Regions from separate parts of the Homo sapiens genome. Here region 2 is linked to region 1. The links come from fine-mapping of genetic effects on gene expression. A gene starts in region 1. The other region holds a variant in brackets. All regions are shown on one strand. Distances are from middle to middle.

Evidence for each region.
Region 2: its variant is fine-mapped to the expression of ZNF112 in atrial appendage (GTEx, PIP 0.90).

What each region holds. Positions count from the first base shown.
Region 1 is chr19:44,351,290-44,360,679 of GRCh38, forward strand. ZNF112 (zinc finger protein 112) reads right to left here and starts at 5,391. Exons shown (of 4, transcript NM_013380.4): 1 at 5,337-5,391. RefSeq lists an enhancer at 5,200-5,700.
Region 2 is chr19:43,459,303-43,468,692 of GRCh38, forward strand. LYPD3 (LY6/PLAUR domain containing 3) reads right to left here and starts at 6,306. Exons shown (of 5, transcript NM_014400.3): 1 at 6,191-6,306; 2 at 5,023-5,154; 3 at 4,297-4,467; 4 at 3,824-3,985; 5 at 1,485-2,545. The coding sequence starts at 6,269. The coding sequence ends at 2,049. RefSeq lists enhancers at 3,835-3,894, 3,925-3,974, 4,527-5,058 and a silencer at 4,125-4,284. The variant G/A (reference allele first, on the strand shown) is at 5,284.

The DNA of each region.
Region 1 (9,390 bases):
CTCATACCATGTGAAGTAACATTCATAAGCTCTGGGAATTAGGATATGGACATCTTTAGGGAGCCACTATTCAGTTTACCACATCTTTCAACTCATTGATATTCACAATTAAAATCATTTGCTTATGGATTAGTATCAGTATTTCATAGGACCTATTTGTTTAAAAAATTTCTTTTCAAAGATAAAATACATAAAATCTCATTACAAATCAGCATTAACAGATGAACATTTACAGTCAATTTTGATGACAAGGAATAGCAACCTTGAACTTCAATTAAGTTGTACTCAATCATTATATCTTAAATTTTGTCAATTAAAGTTTCCTCTCATTATATAAATACCTAAATAATAGTACTGATATTTCTAGTTAACTGGAAAAACTAAAATATTTACAATCTGGGCCTAAAAAAATAGGTTTGCTGGCTCCTGGACAAAATTAATTCAACCCACAGGCGGTTCTTTGCAAAGATTAGTAAAAATTAAACTCCTGATGAAGAACAAAAGAGAAAAGACACAAATTACCAAAATCAAGAATGAAAGAAGGGATATCACTACGGACTTAACAGGCATTAGAAATATAAATGAATTAACATTAATGAATTCAAAGTGATAGATGAAATGGTTTAATTCCTTCAAAGACACAAAACACAAAATACTGATGTGAGAAATCAAAGAGAAAAATGAAAAAAATCACTCAAAATTCTACATACTGCATTGATTTGTTCACGTGATGTTATGGAAAAGGCAATGGGGTTGGGGAGTGAACCAGGGGTTTCCTGGGGTTAAGAGTTGGGGAAGAGTTTGACTACAAAAAGGTACCACAAGGGGATGTTTCTGGGCGATGGAACTGTTGTGAATCTTGATTGTGGTGGTGAAGTCTACATGACAATGCAATTGTCAAAACTCAGAAATGTACACCAAAAAGAATAAATTTCTACTATAAGTAGATAAGTTAAAAAATAAATGTTAAAAAATTAAATAAGGCTGTTCTACAGGTACTTGTCAAACTTTTAAGTGCACAGCAATCACCAGCTCCAGTAAAAGTGAAGCAGAAAAAGCATTTGACAAAATACAACATCCACTCATGACAGAACTTTTGCAGACTAAAAATATAATGGAACTTATAAAAATGCTTTCCCCTATGATCAGGAACAAGGCAGAGATGTGTACTCTTGACATAACTATTCAACACTGTACTGAAAATCAGCCAGTGTAGTGAGGCAAGGAAAAGAAATAAAAAGCATACAGATTAGAAAGGAAGAAATAAAACTGACCCTATTAATACACAACATGTGTCTCTGTGGAAAATCCCAAGGAATCTACCAAAAAACAAAAATTTCTAGTGAGTATAGCAAAGTCAGAGAATACAAGGTCAATGCACAAAAATCAGGTGTATTTCTATACACTAACAATGTACAACTGGAAACCAAAATTTTAAAACAATATGATTTAAAATAGCTCTAGAAGAATAAATTATATATTATACTCGGGCATATGTCTAAACAAAACATGTATAGATCTGTATGCAGAAAATCATGAAACACTAATGCAAGAAATTAAAGAACACTTAAATGAAGGGACATGTTATATCAATGAACTGGAAAACTCAATGTGATAAAGACGGATCTACTGATTTTACATAATGTCAATGAAAATACCAGCTGAATTTTTGGTAGATATAAATAAGCTGATTCTAAAATGCATATGGAAAGGCAAAGGAACCAGAATAGCTAAAAGCAATTTTGGAAAAAAAGAATAAATTTGGAAGAATCAAACTATCCAGTCTTAAGATTTACTATCAAGCTACAGTAAATATGATATCTTGGTACTGGTGAAGAGATACACACATAGATCAATTTAGCAGAACATGGTACAGAAATAAACCCAAACAAGTGGTGTTGGGATGGTTGGTCATTCATATGTAAAGAAATAAAACCCAACTTAACCATCACATATTATAAAAAAAGTTAAAATGGATCACAGATTTAAGTGTAAAACCATAAAACTTCTAGAACAAGAGAAAATCTTCACGACCTGGGGCTAGGCAGACTTCTTAGATATGACATCAAAAGCACAATCCAAAAAAGATAACATTGATAAATTAGATGTAATTAAAATTAGAAATTTTGTTCTGCAAAAGACACTATTAAGAGAATGAAAAGACAAGCTACAGGCTGAGAAGGAATATTTGCAAATCACACATCCAACAAAGGACTTATATCCAGAATATATAAATAGCTCTCAAAAATCAACAATAGGAAAAATATAACCCAATGTAAAACTGGGCAAAGCATGCATACAGACACTTCCGCAAAGAAGATATAAGGATGGCAAAGAAACAATAACAAAAAAAGAAATATCTGCTGAACACCATTAGCCATTAGGGAAATGTAAATTAAAGTCACAATGCTTAGAATGGCTAAAATAAAAAAAAATAAGGAAAATACTAAGTGCTGATGAAGATGTAAATAAACTGGAACTTTCTACATCATTAGTGAGAATGCAAAATGGTACAGATACTACAGTTTGGCATCTTATAAAGTTAAACATACATTCCCCATATGATCCAGTAACCACACTCCTGGCTTCGTACCCTACAGAAATAAGCACAAAAAAAACTGTACATGAATGTTTATATCAGCTCTATTCATAAATGCCAAAAAGTGGAGGAAAAAGTCTATCAACCAGAGAATAGATAAACTGTGATACATCCATAAAGTGGACACTTCTGTTAACCAGAAGTAAACAGAAATGAAGTATTGATACGTATAACAACTTTGATGAATGTCAAGAGCAATTTGCTGAGTAAAAGAATCCGGTCTCAAATGTTAACATATAGCATCAGTTCATTTATACGACATTCTCAAAAAGACAAAACTATAGCGTTTTAGTGGTTATGGTAGTTGCCAGTGGTTACAGGTATGGTGAGGGGTAATTATGAGGGAAGACATGAGGGGAGTTTTTGGGGTGATGGAACTGTTCTTTTTCTGACTACGGTAGTCGTTATACAAACTATGCCTGTGTTGTAATAGAATTGTATACCAAAAATAACAAAATAGTCAATGTCACTGTAAAAACATTTTTTAAAAACCTGTTTTAAAAACCTGGAAACACAACCTCAGTTATAAGGCATGGTCTATAAATGTTGTTACCATTTCTAACAATTTGTTTCTTAGGAATTTTTTTAGATTATCAAAACATAACCAATCATTGCTCTTCAACTCTTCAATACTCTGAAATAGTTGGTGGATTATATAACCTACCAATATTAAGTGAGATTAAGGAATATATCCAGGGGTTATTTCTATTCTATTTTGATACCTAATTCCAATTCCACACTGCAAATCCTTGATGCCAGCTGTCTGTTGAGTAGCTACTCTAACCATAAACCCTTAACAACCTTGTACGATGTGCTGGGCACATGGAGAAAAGTATGACATGGTCCCAGAAATAGAAGAACTTTCAGTGTATGGATTTAGATAAAGAGAAATAAGAAACAAAGAGCTATAAGACTTAGGCAAGGCAAACTCTATACTGGAACACAAAATTCATCACCATCCTTCTCCAAGGTACAATTCTCTTGCATCCCCTAGCTTCCTCAAGTAAGGACCATTCTGTAAGCTTCAACGAATGAAAACCTTAGAGTAGCTGCTGGCATTTCCCTTTCAAAGTCTTGGATATAAGCAATTTATGATCATCAACGTTTGGCAATTATGACAATCAATCAAACGATATTATACTAAGTCGATGTTAGAGATTTGCTTTAAAATACTGAAACAAAAAAAAAAGGGACAGGGAGTTGATACAAGACTGGCAAATGTTAACAAAGGTTGAAGCTGGGTGACGCTTCCACAGAATTATTTTAGTCATATTACATTTGGCTATGCTTACAAATTTCCATAGTAAAAACTTAAGGGAAAAATAAAAGCTATGAAGCCTATTTGGTTAAACATGGGTGAAAATCCAAAAAGAAGTCTACTGGAAGAGGAAAACATTGAAATATTAATATTGTTACTGTTATATCTTGTGGTTAGCATAATTTTTTTCTTTTACACTTTCTATACTTTCTTAATCTTTTACAATATGCAATAATTTATATAATCAGAATATGAACTATAAATATTTCAAATAAAATTAAATTACAGATAATTTTAAAAAATCAAAAATTCAAAGCTTATTAACCTTGCTTTCACGGTCCTCTAGTAAAATCCAAATATGTGTTCTGAAGCTGATACTAAACACATCAAGAACTAAGGCAATGGATGGAAACTATTTGAATTCAAATCCCAGCTCAGGCTCTTACCACCTGGGTGACCTAAAGATAAACCACCTATGCTCTATGTCTGTTTGCTTATCTTTAAAATGGGAATGGTGGTACCCAACCCAGGCTCAAAGGGCTCTTGTGAGGATTAAAGATGTTAATTCATATCAAACTCTTAGAATGATCAGCACTAAATGTTTAAATACTATCTTTATTACTCATGCCCAAGTACTCCCTCATCCGTTTCTGCATTTATTGAACAAATATCAGCGCATCTTCGAGCAGAATTTGCCAGTGAATGATGGAAATATCGTCTTCCCTGAAAAGAAAGGATGATAAGTACTACTCAGGTGAGACTCCGCTGCCAAGTGCCAAAGGGTCATTCCCTCCTTCTCCCTGCAGCCTTTTTCAAGAAGTCAAGGCTAAAGAAGGAAAGGAGGATGGGGGAAATCAGAACTCCTGCATGAATTACAATGGACTACCCAGACAGCCAGGAGTGATCCTGTCCTAAAGAAAAATCTCTCAGTGATCAGAAAAGGGCCAGGGATACTCTGCAGCTGGAGCTCTGACCCCATCCTGGGTTCACAGAAGCTTTCAGGGAACTGAGTCCTTCTCAGAAAATTAAAAAGTGCTAATAACAAGAGACCCATCTTCTACCACCTGTCAGGCTCTGTTCCAAGTCTTTTTATTTAACTCTCAAAAGAACTCCATTAGATAGATACTAGTACCATTTTAAAGAAAAAGAAACATAGGCAGAGAGATTAAGATACTCGCCTGTTATTATACTGCTAGGAAGTGGCAGAGCTGGTTGATGGTCAGGGGAAAGGGCTGGGGAAGTACAGAACCCAGGAGATCCCCAGTCCCTGCGATGTAGGATCTTGGACCCCCGGCGCTAAGTGGGGATGCGCCAGCTGCCCCACACTGGAGAAGGCTCATTCAAAGATAACACAAATCCCGCCCTTCGCCGCAAGTGGATTATCCTCCCCTAGAGCTACTGCCCGGTTGCTACTGGACCCCAACAAAACGAACATCAGTATGGACGGAAGGAGCAGGAAGCAGGGCGGGGAGCGCTCACCTTTCTGGGAGGAACGAAGGCCGCGGCCTAGCGTACCTGGGGCGGAAGTGGCTCTGCCTACCGAGACCTCCTGGACTACGCTTCCCAGAATTCCCGACGGGATCAGGGAGACGGCCTCAGCCTCCTAGAGCGGAAGTTACCCGACTACACGGGGCTCCCAAACTACATTTCCCAGAATTCCTAGAAAAACTCTCCACTTATCTGCCTGCCTAGGACGCAAGTACCGGGTGCCAAGCTGAGAGCCTGGATGATATTTCACATGTGCCGGTCCCAAAGGAATTCCTTAACTCCCCCTTCCTGGAACCGAAATGCTTCCAAAGACAGAGAGCTCGTATATATATTTCTCTGTTTTACCCAGCGGACCGTGCATGAAAGGCGCCTTTCCTGGCGCGTGTGTCTCTGACCCTGTGGATCTTCTGGACAATTCCCGGAATTTCTTGCAGGGTAGCACTTTCCCTTAAGTCGTCTCTTTCTCGTTTGGATAGTCAGTATTTGTATAGTCACTATTCTCTTTTGGTTAGCCATCCAATTTTATACTGCTAGTCCAGTTCTACTGCCTTCCCCCTAGAGTTTGAATTTATTTTTCTTCAAACGCGACACAAACCCAAATAAACTCAACCAAAGCGGACTTTACCTACCTACCTACCTACTTACCAAGAAAATATCCCATAAAGGAGAGAACAGAGAAGCTTGCAATACAGGAAGAAAAAAGAAAAGAATTACAGAATGGAAGCGATGTGTGCGCTAAAAATGCAGGTACTTAAAGGAAATTGGGCTGATTTGTACTGGACACCGAATTTAAGGAATACAGGATCTCAACCTTTCTTTGACTCGATTACCTTTTTATTCCATTTTGGTGTGGACGCGTCTGAAACTGATAGTGCTGCTGCTACCTACCATAATGTGTTTGTTGCAAGATCCACAAGAACGTGGATGCCAAGAATCCACAAAAAAACAGATGCAACCGTTGATGAGGCCATAAGCAGAAACAGTAAATGGTTCCCACGTTTCCTCTGCTTTAACTACTGATGATGAAATGCAAGTCATAAGGCAAATAGAAGGGCTGTACTGATACAGACAAAATGTTATTATTATGGGAAGGGATAAGTCTCTTGTAAAACCTCGAAATTTTTTTCTTCTTTGAGAAAAATCTATCACCTATTTTCACCCTGCTCTTGATATAGCAAATATTGTAAGTTGTCTTATGGAGGACAGGATGATTCAGGGAGGACGGTGAATGGGTTGACTCAATCCAGAAAAGGAAGAGGAAAATAAAAAGACATAACGACCAATCTGTGAAAATGCTCACGGGGTCAGGAGATCGAGACCATCCTGGCTAACATGGTGAAACCCCGTCTCTACAAAAAATACAAAAAATTAGCCGGGCGTGGTGGCGGGCACCTGTAGTCCCAGCTACTCGGGAGGCTGAGGCAGGAGAATGGCGTGAACCCGGGAGGCGGAGCTTGCAGTGAGCCGAGATCGCACCACTGCACTCCAGCCTGGGCAACAGAGCGAGACTCCGTCTCAAAAGAAAAAAAAAAAGACACTATTAAGAGATGAGACTATTTGATTCTTTATTTAACAACTCCTTTCCAAGGAAATGTTTCTGAAAATACATACGGTTTACATATTAAAGAGGATCAATCTGATAATAGGGGATTTTTTTTTATAAAATGAAAGGAAATTTTAAAAATAAAAGGGACAGAATAATACTTTGTGTACTTCCACTTCCAGTAATAATAAAATGAGTGATTTGGAACAAACATCTGGCAGAGGAAAGATGAGCAAACTTTTTAAATGTCAAAAGGCATCAAAAGACAAGATAATGGAGAAATGGTGGGCCAAAATTCAGAAACACTTGGGAGAGTCATGCATTTGGGGCTACTTTTCTCCTGGGGATGATGGTCTAGTTTAGGATCTGAAAAGCCTAGAAGCTCTGCAGCACTTTTGACACCTATATGAAGCTGGGGGAACAAAAGATTCTAGCAAAAACTAAAATTCGCATCTTTTCAAGTGCACATAAGATTTGCACAAATTAGCAAAATGATACGGGATTTCAAAATACTGAAATACTAAATATGCTTTTGAATACAATGAAATTTGGCTAGAAATCAATAAAAATACAACTAAATGATTCATGTGTGCATTTAATAAATATTGTCTCATCTCCAAACCCACCATTCTTCACTCTGCTTTATGGGGCTGGAATGGGGGAATCTGCAGCCAATCTTTCCCGACCTCCACACCCCCAATCTGGTTCTGTGTTGGGCAATTATTAGCAGAAGCGTATAGGGGTGGTGGGGGCAGGGAGATATACTATATCCTGTGCCTGCCAACCAGCAGTACTTTTTCTTGTAGCAACTGCCTAATTTTCAGTTTTTCTAACACTTGAATAACCTATTTCATCATGGCTCTTTGTAAACATTATTAAACAACTTCCCAAAGACTGATCCTTAGATGTCTAAGTCCTAACACTGCAGGGCCCTGCTTTTGAGCTCAGAGACAGCAGAACCAGCCCAACATTGACCTCTCCTCAGAGGTCTGAGTTTCAGGTGAGCATGACCTTCCTTCAAGCTTCTAAGTTTTAGTAATTCTGGTCTCTTCACTTTGTTTCCTCAGACCTCAGGTGGTTGCTGCTTGCTGCAGTTGCTATTTCCTGCAGTTGCTGCTTCCATCATATATTAGAGTTCTTTTTTTTTTTTTTTTTTTTTTTTTTTTTTGAGAGTCTCGCTCTGTTCCCCGGGCTGAAGTGCAGTGGTGCCATCTCGGTTCACTGCAACCTCTGCCTCTCGGCTTCAAGCAATTCTCCTGCCCCAGCCTCCCGAGTAGCTGGGATTACAGGCATGCGCCACCACGCCCAGCTAATTTTTGTATTATCAGTAGAGATGGGGTTTCACCACATTGGCCAGGCTGGTGTTGAACTCCTGACCTCGTGATCCACCCGCCTCAGCCTCCCAAAGTGCTGGCATTACAGGCGTGAGCCACTGCATGTGGCCTACAGTTCTTTTTCTGCTCTTTCAGAAATCTAGCTACCAACTCTACAATATGCTAATTTTTCTTTTCAAATAATTGATAAGGTTTCTATCTTCTCAGTGGACCCTAAATTACAAACTTGTTTAGAAATTAATCAAACCACTTTTAAGTAATCCATAGATAAAAGACTGTGGCATTGAAATTTGGTGTCATCAGTGAATTCTACCAAATATTTAAAGAAGAAACCATGTTCATCTCAAAATTATTCCTGAGAATAACAAAATAGGAAACACTTTCCAACTAACTTTATGAGGCCACTGTAATAACACTGACAAAATTTGTGAGAGGCTTCATTAGAATGGAAAATGACAGGTCTGGCCAGGCACGGTGGCTCATGCCTGTAATCCCAGCACTTTGTGGGGCTAAGGCAAGCAGATCATGAGATCAGGAGATCCAGACCATTCTGGCTAACACAGTGAAACCCCGTTTCTACTAAAAATACAAAAAAAAAGCCGGGCATGGTGGCACGTGCCTGTATTCCCAGTTATTTGGGAGGCTGAGGTGGGAGAATCGCTTGAACCTGGGAGATGGAGATTGCAGTGAGCTGAGATCGTGCCACTGCACTCCAGCCTGGGTGACAGAGGAGACTCCATCTCAAGAAAAAAAAAAAGAAAAGAAAAAAGAAAGAAAAAGAAAATGACAGGTCTATCTCGTCATAAATATACTTTCAAAAATGCTAAACAAAATGTTGCCAATGATATATAAAAGGGCAACCTAGGTATCAGAGAAAAAAAAAGTTTGATTAATCACCCATTTATCATAAGAAAATTTAGGCAACTAAGCAATAGTAAAGATCTACAAAAATGGCAACAAATATCAAAAGGAATAGTGAAATATTGAAAACATTTCCTCTATGATGGGGAACAAAATAATGATGTCCACCCCAATCATTTCTACTAAATACCACATTTGCTCCTTTATCCTGCAATCTTGCCAACTAATCTAATTAATTTTAATATTTTATGTGTAGATCTTTTGAATTTTATATGCATGCTCATGTTGACTTCAGATCTGCAACAAA
Region 2 (9,390 bases), 890 kb before region 1:
ATGCCTGTAATCCCAGCTACTCGGGAGGCTGAGGCAGGAGAATCGCTTGAACCTGGGAGGGGAGGTTGTGGCGAGCTGAGATTGTGCCATTGCACTCCAGCCTGGGTAACAAGAGCAAAACTCCATTTCAAAAAAAAAAAAAAAGAAAAATCATTAATACTCCCAACACTACATTTACCATCACTGATGTTTCCCTCTATACATGTATTGCAATATATGTGTTTCAGAATAAGAGCTCATACTCTTATTGATGTTCTATTTTGTTGCTATTCTCCTTATTTGCTATTGTTTTGTTGTTACCTCACACTACTCCCCATTATCAATAGTAATATTGGCTATCAATAGCAATATTGGCAATATACTGTTATGATCTCACTATTCCCCACATCTGATCCTCCTCCCATCAAGCAGTCGCAAAGCCTACCAGGAACTCTCTCATTCCCAAACCAGGCTTTTCCCCTCCAGTGCCTCTAGGGCCAGGCCTTCATCTGATTGGAAGGAGATGGAGGTGGGGCTCAAGCCCCAGGTCCCCAACATCAAGCAAAGACCAACAGCAGCACCCCCGGGTCCTACAGACAAGTGGGACACAGTAGGTAAGCCCAGTTAATGACTTTTTTTTTTGAGACGGAGTTTCACTCTTTGCCCACGCTGGAGTGCAGTGGCGTGATCTCGGCTCACCGCAACCTCCACCTCTTGGGTTCAAGCGATTCTCCCGCCTCAGCCTCCCGAGTAGCTGGGATTACAGGCATGTGCCACCATGCCCAGCTAATTTTGTATTTTTAGTAGAGACAGGGTTTCTCCATGTTGGTCAGGCTGGTCTCGGACTCCAGACCTCAGGTGATCCAGCTGCCTCTGCCTCCCAAAGTGCTGGCATTACAGGCATGAGCCACTGCACCCAGGCTTAATGACTCTTAGTAAACCAGATGAAGCCGGGTGCAGTGGCTCCTGCCTGTAATCCCAACACTTTGGGAGTCCAAGGCAGGAGGACTGGGCATCATAGCAAGACCTCATCTCTACAAAAAATAAAATTAGCCAAGTATGATGGGATAAGCCTGTAGTCCCAGCTACTTGGGAGCCTGAGGCAGGAGTTAGAGGTTGCAGTGAGCTATGATTGGGCCACTGCAGTCCAGTTTGGGTGAACAGAGACCCCGTCTCTAAAACAATGCAGACGGCTGGCTGGATGACAAGGCGGGTGGAGCCTAGGGAGGGTACATAAACTCATTAGACAAAGCTCTCTATTCCCTGGCATTGCTAAAAGCCCCATTCGCCCCTCCATGCTGCTTAATGGTTTCGCCCGGTCTCCCCCTCACCAGTGGGACCACCCACATGCAGGATAGACCCAGGAGATTAAAGTTCAACCGTGACTTCCCCCAGGACTGCGGCTCTAGGTCCCATATCTCTCCCGTTAAAGGCTTTATGATGCCCACCCTAGCTCAGCTAGAGCGGTTATTGCGAGAAACAAGGTGGAAGTGACTCCTTTAAAGCACTATACAAAGTAATTAAATCTTTATTGAGGCATTTATGTGCCAGAAACTGATCACACACAGACATAAGGCACGGTCCCTGCCCTCGAGGAGCTCACAGTCTAGTAAGGAAGACATATGGGGAACCGATTCCCCAAAGATGCGGGGAGTAGGGGAGGCAGTGCTTAGAGTGGGGAGCCATTGTCCCACCCACCCCACGCTCCAAAGTCCAGGCTGGCTAGGAGAAAGTGAGTAGGAAGCTTAGCATCCTCTCTCTCACCTTCCCCGTGACAGCTGACTTCTCTCACTCTGTCCTAACATCACAAGAGGACAAGCGGAGAGACAAGGATGAGAAGGATACAGGAGCTGTCCTCAAAAAGCTAGAACACCCCTGGCAGAATATATACAACGGTATTTTATTTCCCAAAGCCGCAAACCAGCGCAGCAGAAGCTGGGGATACTGGGGAATGTTGGAAAAACAGGGGCTGGGCCAGCCCAGTCCAGTGGTGGGAACAGGAAGTGATGAGAAGAGGGGTACCCAGGGCCAGAGAAGTAGGTGAGAGGGAAATTTCCAGGTGGAGAAGCTCACAGTAGGACACCAGCAGCCACGGCCAACAGAAGGGCTGCCAATCCAGCTGTGGGAGCCACACAGCCTTTATTATGGGGCTGCTGGGGCCCCCCTTTTGCAGGATACTGCCCTGAATTGCTGCGGTCCTGGTGGCCAGCGGCGCCTCCAGTCAACCTGGGCTCCTCATCCCGGGAGGCCTCGTGTTCTACTCCCTGTCTCGGAGTCTGACTGGTTGGCGCTGGCATGGGTTTGGTGGTGGATGTGGGTCTCACTGGGGCCGAGGTAGAAGTGGTGACAGATGTGGTTGAGGCCACAGTCGTGGGCTCTGGAGGGGGCAGCCGGACAAGGGGTGGGATTCGAGGGGAGAAGTAGGTCTTGTTGCGGAGGTCAGAGTTACAGCGGGACCCCTGGCAACAGGAGCCACTGAGCGTGAACCCTGGGCCTGTTACTCCATCCCGAGTGCAGAATTCATCCTGGACACAGCCCCGGACAGGCAAGGACACAGTCACATTAGCTGCAGGAAGGAGACACAGATAGGTCAGTGGCTGGAGGGAGAGAGGTTGACATGGCCAGAACAAAACTTAGAGGCATCAGACAAGAACAGAGAACCTGACCGGGCGTGGTGGCTCACGCCTGTAATCCCAGCACTTTGGGAAGCCGAGGCAGGTGGATCACTGGGCAACAGAGTGAGACTCTGTCTTGCAAAAAAAAAAAAGAACAGAGAACCCCCAAAATGAGACAGAAAGTCTCTGCATCCATTAATCCCAAAATCTCAACTCAGGTCCTACTATGAGAAACAGACAGACTCACTGTCTTTGGCACATGGTGGATTAACATTTTCCATTGTGCTTTGAATGGAAATGTGTGTAGGCTGAACCAAAAGTAGGGTTTAAAACAAAGGCTTAGACTGAGATACAAGACCTCTCACAAGACCACAGTGCAGAACAAACTTCCTCTACAACCCTCTCACCATTATCCCCTTAGCCTTCACCCTGGCTTTTACCTCCCCATCAGAATTTACTCTTAGAGTCAGAGTTACATCTCCACACCAGGCTCAGTGGTTCACGGCTGTAATCCCAGCACTCTGGGAGACCTAGGCAGGGGGATCTCTTAGCCCAAGAGTTCAATACCAGCCTGGGTAACATGGCAAGACCCCACTGTTACCAAAAATAAAAGGAACCAGTCGTGGCGGTGCACCCTGTAGTCCCAGCTACTTGGGAGGCTGAGGCGGGAGGACTGCTTGAGCCCAAGAGGTAGAGGCTGCAGTGAGCTATGATTGCGCCACTACACTCCAGGCTAGGCGATAGAGCAAGATGCTGTCTTTAAAAAAAAATAGTAATAATAAAATAAAAAAGAACTACATCTTCCATAGCATAACTGGCAGGGGATGGGATTTGAAGAACTTCATTTTCCATGGTTACATTTCTCAATAGTCTGGGACAGGCGGGGGACCCCTTGAGTTTTAAGGGCTAAGAACTAGAGATTCCCCGCAGTGCCTGGGCAGAAGCTTAGAGGCTTAAATACCTCTTAAGTACCTGGCAGCCCTCTATGGAAATGCATTTCCCTCCAAAACACTCTGGGACAAAGCATCACTATCCCCACACTATTAATATGTTGGGGGAAGGGACTGCATTTTCCATGATGCCCTACGATACAAGCACCTAGGCCCCACGATTCCCAGAATGCGTCGCAGGTTAAGGAAACGCTTTGGGTAAAGGGCTCCCTACCGCCCAGGGTGCTTCAGAAGGGCTACCACAACTCCCGTAGGTCCCGTGCTCCGGGGCTCCCTCACCTGCCGTCAAGGTGACGTTGCCGTCGAAGCAGCCCTTGTAGACATGATCGCTGGCGTTGTAGCAGCTCACGACCGGCGGCGATGTACCCTGGCACGCCTCCCGGCTCAGGCCCACACAGCTGTAGCACTCCACGCCGTTGGGCGGGTATGCACTCTCATTACCTGCGAGGGGAGCCGAGAGGAAGAAAAGGTGTCGAAAGGGTTCGGGAACCGCAGCTCGTCCTCTAGCCCCGCCCCTAAGGCCTGGCCCCGGCACTATCGATGACCCCGCCTACTAGTAGCCCCGCCCCAGCGCGCAACCTCGCGGCGCCTACAGCCAGAAAGTCCCTCCTGCTGCCTCTTGGCCCCGCCCCAGAGTGTGACCCCACCCCCAGCCCAGGTCGAGTACTCCCGCCTCTGCCACGGCTCCACCTCTATCTTGGCAGGCCCGAATGTGGCTCCGCCCCCGCAGCTACGGCCCGGCCCCCACGGACCTGCCGGGTCGAGCGCCCGCGAGGTGAGGTTGAGCTTGGCGTTGCAGCGATCCTGAGCGCATTGCTGCAGCTGGATGAACGCCAGAAGCCCGTGAAGATCCAGGCCGCGGTCATTCTTGCCGGGGAGTCCCGAACCGCAACCCCGCACTGCCAGCGAGAATTGTCCGTGGACTAGGGAGAGGGACAAGGGCGGGATTAGCTGTGGGCGTGGTCTCAGATGGGGCGTGGCCCAGAGTTGGGTAGGGTCTGGGAGGGGCGGGGCCTCAAATAGGCCAACACCACAGGACCGACAGGCAGGAATTGGCGGATGGACGCCCCCAAAGAGCCGCTCAGAGCGGAAAGAACGACCGAAGCAGGGAGGAGCGGGGTCACGGAACGGGGGCGGAACCTCAAAGAGCTGAGTCGGAGGAGACAGCCTGGTTGACAGGCAGGGATGGGGAGGTCTCATTGGTGGAGCAGAAAAAGTGCATAGGACGTGACCTCGTTCCAAACCCGAGCTCTCCCCGTCCGCCCCACCCAGTTCTCAACTCTCTGCTCCTCGCGCTTGTAATTGTTAATAGAGAAGGCCTGGCCTGCAAGGCTGTGTCGTAGGGTCCCGGCCAGGCTGAAAGGGAGGGGTGGGGCCGCGTTAAAGGGGCGTGGCCAGATCCAGAAAGGACTATAAGGAGGCGGGGCTGGGCCGGAGGAGCCTGCAGTGGTGTGCGTGGCCCGGGGGTCCCCACTCACTGGTCTCCACCGCCCCCACGGCCTCGGTGCAGACGTCCACGCCCGGCGCGCACTTCACTGTCTTCATCTTGTTCGGGGAGCATCCGTCATCTGCTTTCTGCACGCAGCTGTAGCACTCCAGGGCCTGCGCTCCTGGGGGAGCGGAGCCGAATAGACCTGAGCCCTCCTTGCTAAAGCGTCCACCCCCAAGGAGAAATAGTCCTTCCCATGCCCTCTGTCCCGGGATTAGACAGTCTTATTGCACACACTTTTCCAGGGCAG[G/A]AGTAGGGAAAAGCTTTCCACAAATCTGGAAGCACGGGAATCACTGGACCCTTTTCCTTCACACCCACTATGCCAACTGTGGGCACATCCTTCCGACAGCCCTGTATGCCCACTGTAGGCGATCCCCGCCATGAAGCCCCTCATCCCGGGGTAGGAAGGATACCTCCTCACGGTTTTCTGCTCAGAATGAGAGAACTTTTCCCACAGTGTGTGGGAGAACTTTTCCCACAGTAGACTGTGCTCAGTGAGGGATCCCTTCCCACAGCCCCCTTCTGCTCAAATGAGAGAACACTACCCACAGCTTCTCTGCCCAGGACAGGGAACACTTTTTTCTTTTTTTCTTTTTTTCTTTTTTTTTTTTTTGAGACGGAGTCTCGCTCTGTCGCCAGGCTGGAGTGCAGTGGCGCAATCTCGGCTCACTGCAACCTCCCCTCCTGGATTCAAACGATTCTCCTGCCTCAGCCTCCCGAGTAGCTGGGACTACAGGCTCGCGCTACCGCGCCCAGCTAATTTTTGTATTTTTAGTAGAGACAGGGTTTCACCATGTTGGCCAGGCTGGTCTCGATCGTTTGACCTCATGATCCGCCTGCCTCGGCCTCCCAAAGTGCTGAGATTACAGGCATGAACCACCGCGCCCGGCCTAGGAACAGGGGACTTCTTTCTGCAGCTTCAGGATAGGAAAATTTTGCCCACAGCTCCCCTTGTCCGTGGTGGGGAACCCTTCCTACGGCCCATGGTGGAGGACCCTTCCCTCTGCCTCCCTTGCTTAGGATGGGGGAACTTTGCCCACAGTGCCCTCTGCTTATGTGGGGATCCTTCCCACAGCCTTCTCTGTACGGGGCCAGAGGAGCCTCCTCCCTAAGAGCCCCCACTCTACCCCCTCCACCTCTCCGGGCAGCAGACCCACCTCCGCGAAGCAGCAGCAGCAGCAGCCAGCCTGCAGTCCAGATCATGGCCTGGGCACCTGCTTTCCTGGCGGGGTCCATGGCTCCGTCCTGCTCCCTTGGCGTCCCCCCTGGATGTGCCGCCTCCGAGCTCGGGCCCTCTTACCTGAGCCCAGGATGAGTAACCTCGCCCCAGGCAACCCCAGCCTTGCCCAACCGGGCCAACTCAGCGTCGGCTGTGGGGCGGGGCCCCGCCCCTAGGCGCGTCATCCAAGGGAGAGCGGTCCCTGCCCTGTGAAGTTGCCAAGGAGGGAAAGGGTGGGAGCTGAGGTTCCCTGACAGCTCGCGGGAGAAAGTCTGTGTGTGTTTGGAGTGGGAGAGTAGTGGGGCTTAAAGACAGGCTGGGGCTACTCGACATTCAGTGTTCGGTAACTGTTAAATGAGCATCTACAGTGTGCCCGGCTTTGGTCTAGGTAATGCTGGAGATGAAGACAGAACCAGTGCCTGTCCTGGCAGAGCTCACAGTCTGATGGGGGAGACAGATGCTAATCAAATAATCGTACAAATTGGTGTTTACCAAAGAGACTAAGACACTGAAGGAAAAAGTGTAGTGATACAAGGAGATGTGCAGTCTAGAAGTGGGGGCTGGTCGGTGAGGGCTTCCTTGAGGTTATCTGAGATGCAACCTCAAGGGCATGCAGGATGTAGCCAGCTAGAGCAGGTCAAGAGAGGGACACAGCCCTTTACAAGCAGAGGGAACAGCACGTGGGAGCACCTGGAGGTAGGAGGTAGGATGGACCATTCAAACATGGAAAGGAGAGCAGTGCTCCTGAGCTCAGAAGTCCATGAGAGAAGGGCAGGAACTGAGATGAAAGAGTCAGGCAGAGGCCGAGACACTCAGGGCATCAGAGGCCCCGACAAGAGATTTGGATTAATTTTGAGAATAGTAGAGAACCTTTAAGAGGGTCTAAATGAGCTGGAGGACATAATAGATTTGCTTCCTAATATGATCAACCTGAGAAATAGTGCAGCTAGCCATCAAGAAGTAAATGGAGGCCGGGCGCGGTGGCTCATGCCTGTAATCCCAGCAATTTGGGAGGCCGAGCTGGGTGGATCACTTGAGATCAGGAGTTTGAGACCAGCCTGGGCAACATGGCGAAACCTCATCTCTATTAAAAAAAAATAATAAATTTAAAAAAATTAGCCAGGTGCAGTGGCGTGCACCTGCTGTCCCAGCTACTCGGAAGGGTAGGGCAGGAGAATCACTTGAGCCCAGGAGGTGGAGGTTGCAGTGAGCTGAGATCACGCCACTGCACTCCAGCCTGGGCAACAGAGTGAGACCCTGTCTCAAAAAAAAAAATTTAAAAATTTAAAAATTAAAAAAAAGTAAATGGATCTGAGAGTAGGATATATGATTTTAAAAAAGGAAAAAGAAAAAGAAGTGAATGGCAAAAGAGAGTGGTTGGTTCGGCCAATGGAATACTACACAGCAATAGAAAAGATCCAACACCTGATATATGCAGCAACATATCTCAAAAACTTTGTGTTGGGGCCAGGCACAGTGGCTCACACCTGTAATCCCAGCACTTTGAGACACCAAGGTGGGAGGATCACTTGAACCCAGGGGTTTTGAGACCAGGCTGTGCAACATAGTGAGATCCCATCTCATTTTATTTTAAAAAAAGAAAAAACTTGGTGTTGAGTTTAGAAAGCCTTAAACAAACAAACAAAACATACTGTGTAACTGAATATATATGAAGTTTCAGAACAGACAAAACTAACCAGTGGTGATAGAAATCAGAACACATGTTACCTTTGGGAGGGCATGGCCCCAGAAGGAGCAACAGGGAGGAGCCCCCACGATCTTCATCTAGGTGACAGCTGCATGTGTGTACAGATACGTTGAGAATCACTGACTCAGGCCTGTCACTGGACGTATGTTATTCTTCAATAAAAACAAGGTAAAGAATGTCACTGTGGACTCTGTGTAAAAAAGGAAAATGACTCTAGAAGGGGTGAGAGAGAAGGCCAGGAAACCAACAGGGGGCCGTGTAGTTTTCCATGGAAGAAAGAGAAAAACAGCCCCTAACAGCTGGGAGTTGGCCTGACACACATAGTGAGGCCATGGAGTTCAACTGCGCCTAGATAATTTCACAGAGCACCAACCTGGACAAGGCCACACTGCGACAGTAAAGGATCAAGAAACAAATCAATAGCCTGGGCAACACAGCGAAACCTCGTCTCTACTGAAAATACAAAAAATTAGCTGGGCGTGGGGGTGTGCACCTATAATCCCAGCTACTTGAGAGGCTGAGCTGGGAGAATCACCCGAGCCTGGGAGGTTGAGGCTGCAGTGAGCTGAGATTGCGACACTGCACTCCAGCTTGGGCAACCAGAGTGAGACCCTGTCTCAAAAAAACAAAAAACAAAGAAAAACAAAATCAAGACCAATCCATAGCCATGTCTGAACACAGAAACAAACAAGGTCATTGTGCAAACCGCAGAATGACTAAGCATCCCCATATCCTGGCTAATATAAATGACTGCTTATATTATATTAAAGTTACAACTTTAACCTCACTTTATTTCTCCTGCCTCATAAATGAGATTTATGCAAATGCCCAACCACAGCATTACTCCTCCTCTGTTTAACAGTATCCAAACTAGAACGAGGTCCCACTTCCTTGCACCATTCCCAAGACCACCACACACAAGCCCAAATCTTAAAATCAATCCTTTCTGGCCAGGTGCTCACACCTGTAATCCCAGCACTTTGGGAGGCCAAGGGGGTGGATCACCTGAGCTCAAGAGTTCGAGACCAGACTGGCCAATGTGGTGAAACTCCGTCTCTACTAAAAATACAAAAAATTAGCTGGGTGTGGTGGCACACACCTGTAATCCCAGTTCCTGGGGAGTAGGGGCTGAGGCAGGAGAATCGCTGAACCTAGGAGGCAGAGGTTGCAGTGAGCCGAGATTTGCGCCACTGCCCTCCAACCTGGGTGACAGAGCAAGACTTTGACTCAAAAAAAAAAAAAATCAATCCTTTCTAACACCCTTTTACTTAGACACCTCACAGTTACCTCATGGTGTGTTTTCTCCCTCATTGCAAGAAGCAATAAACCCAACTTGTTCAACCACAGGTGTGTCCCTGGTGGAGAACATTGACACAGGCCAGAGCAGATGTACTTAGCCAAGGGTGTCCCAAAGGAAAGGTGAAGAGTGG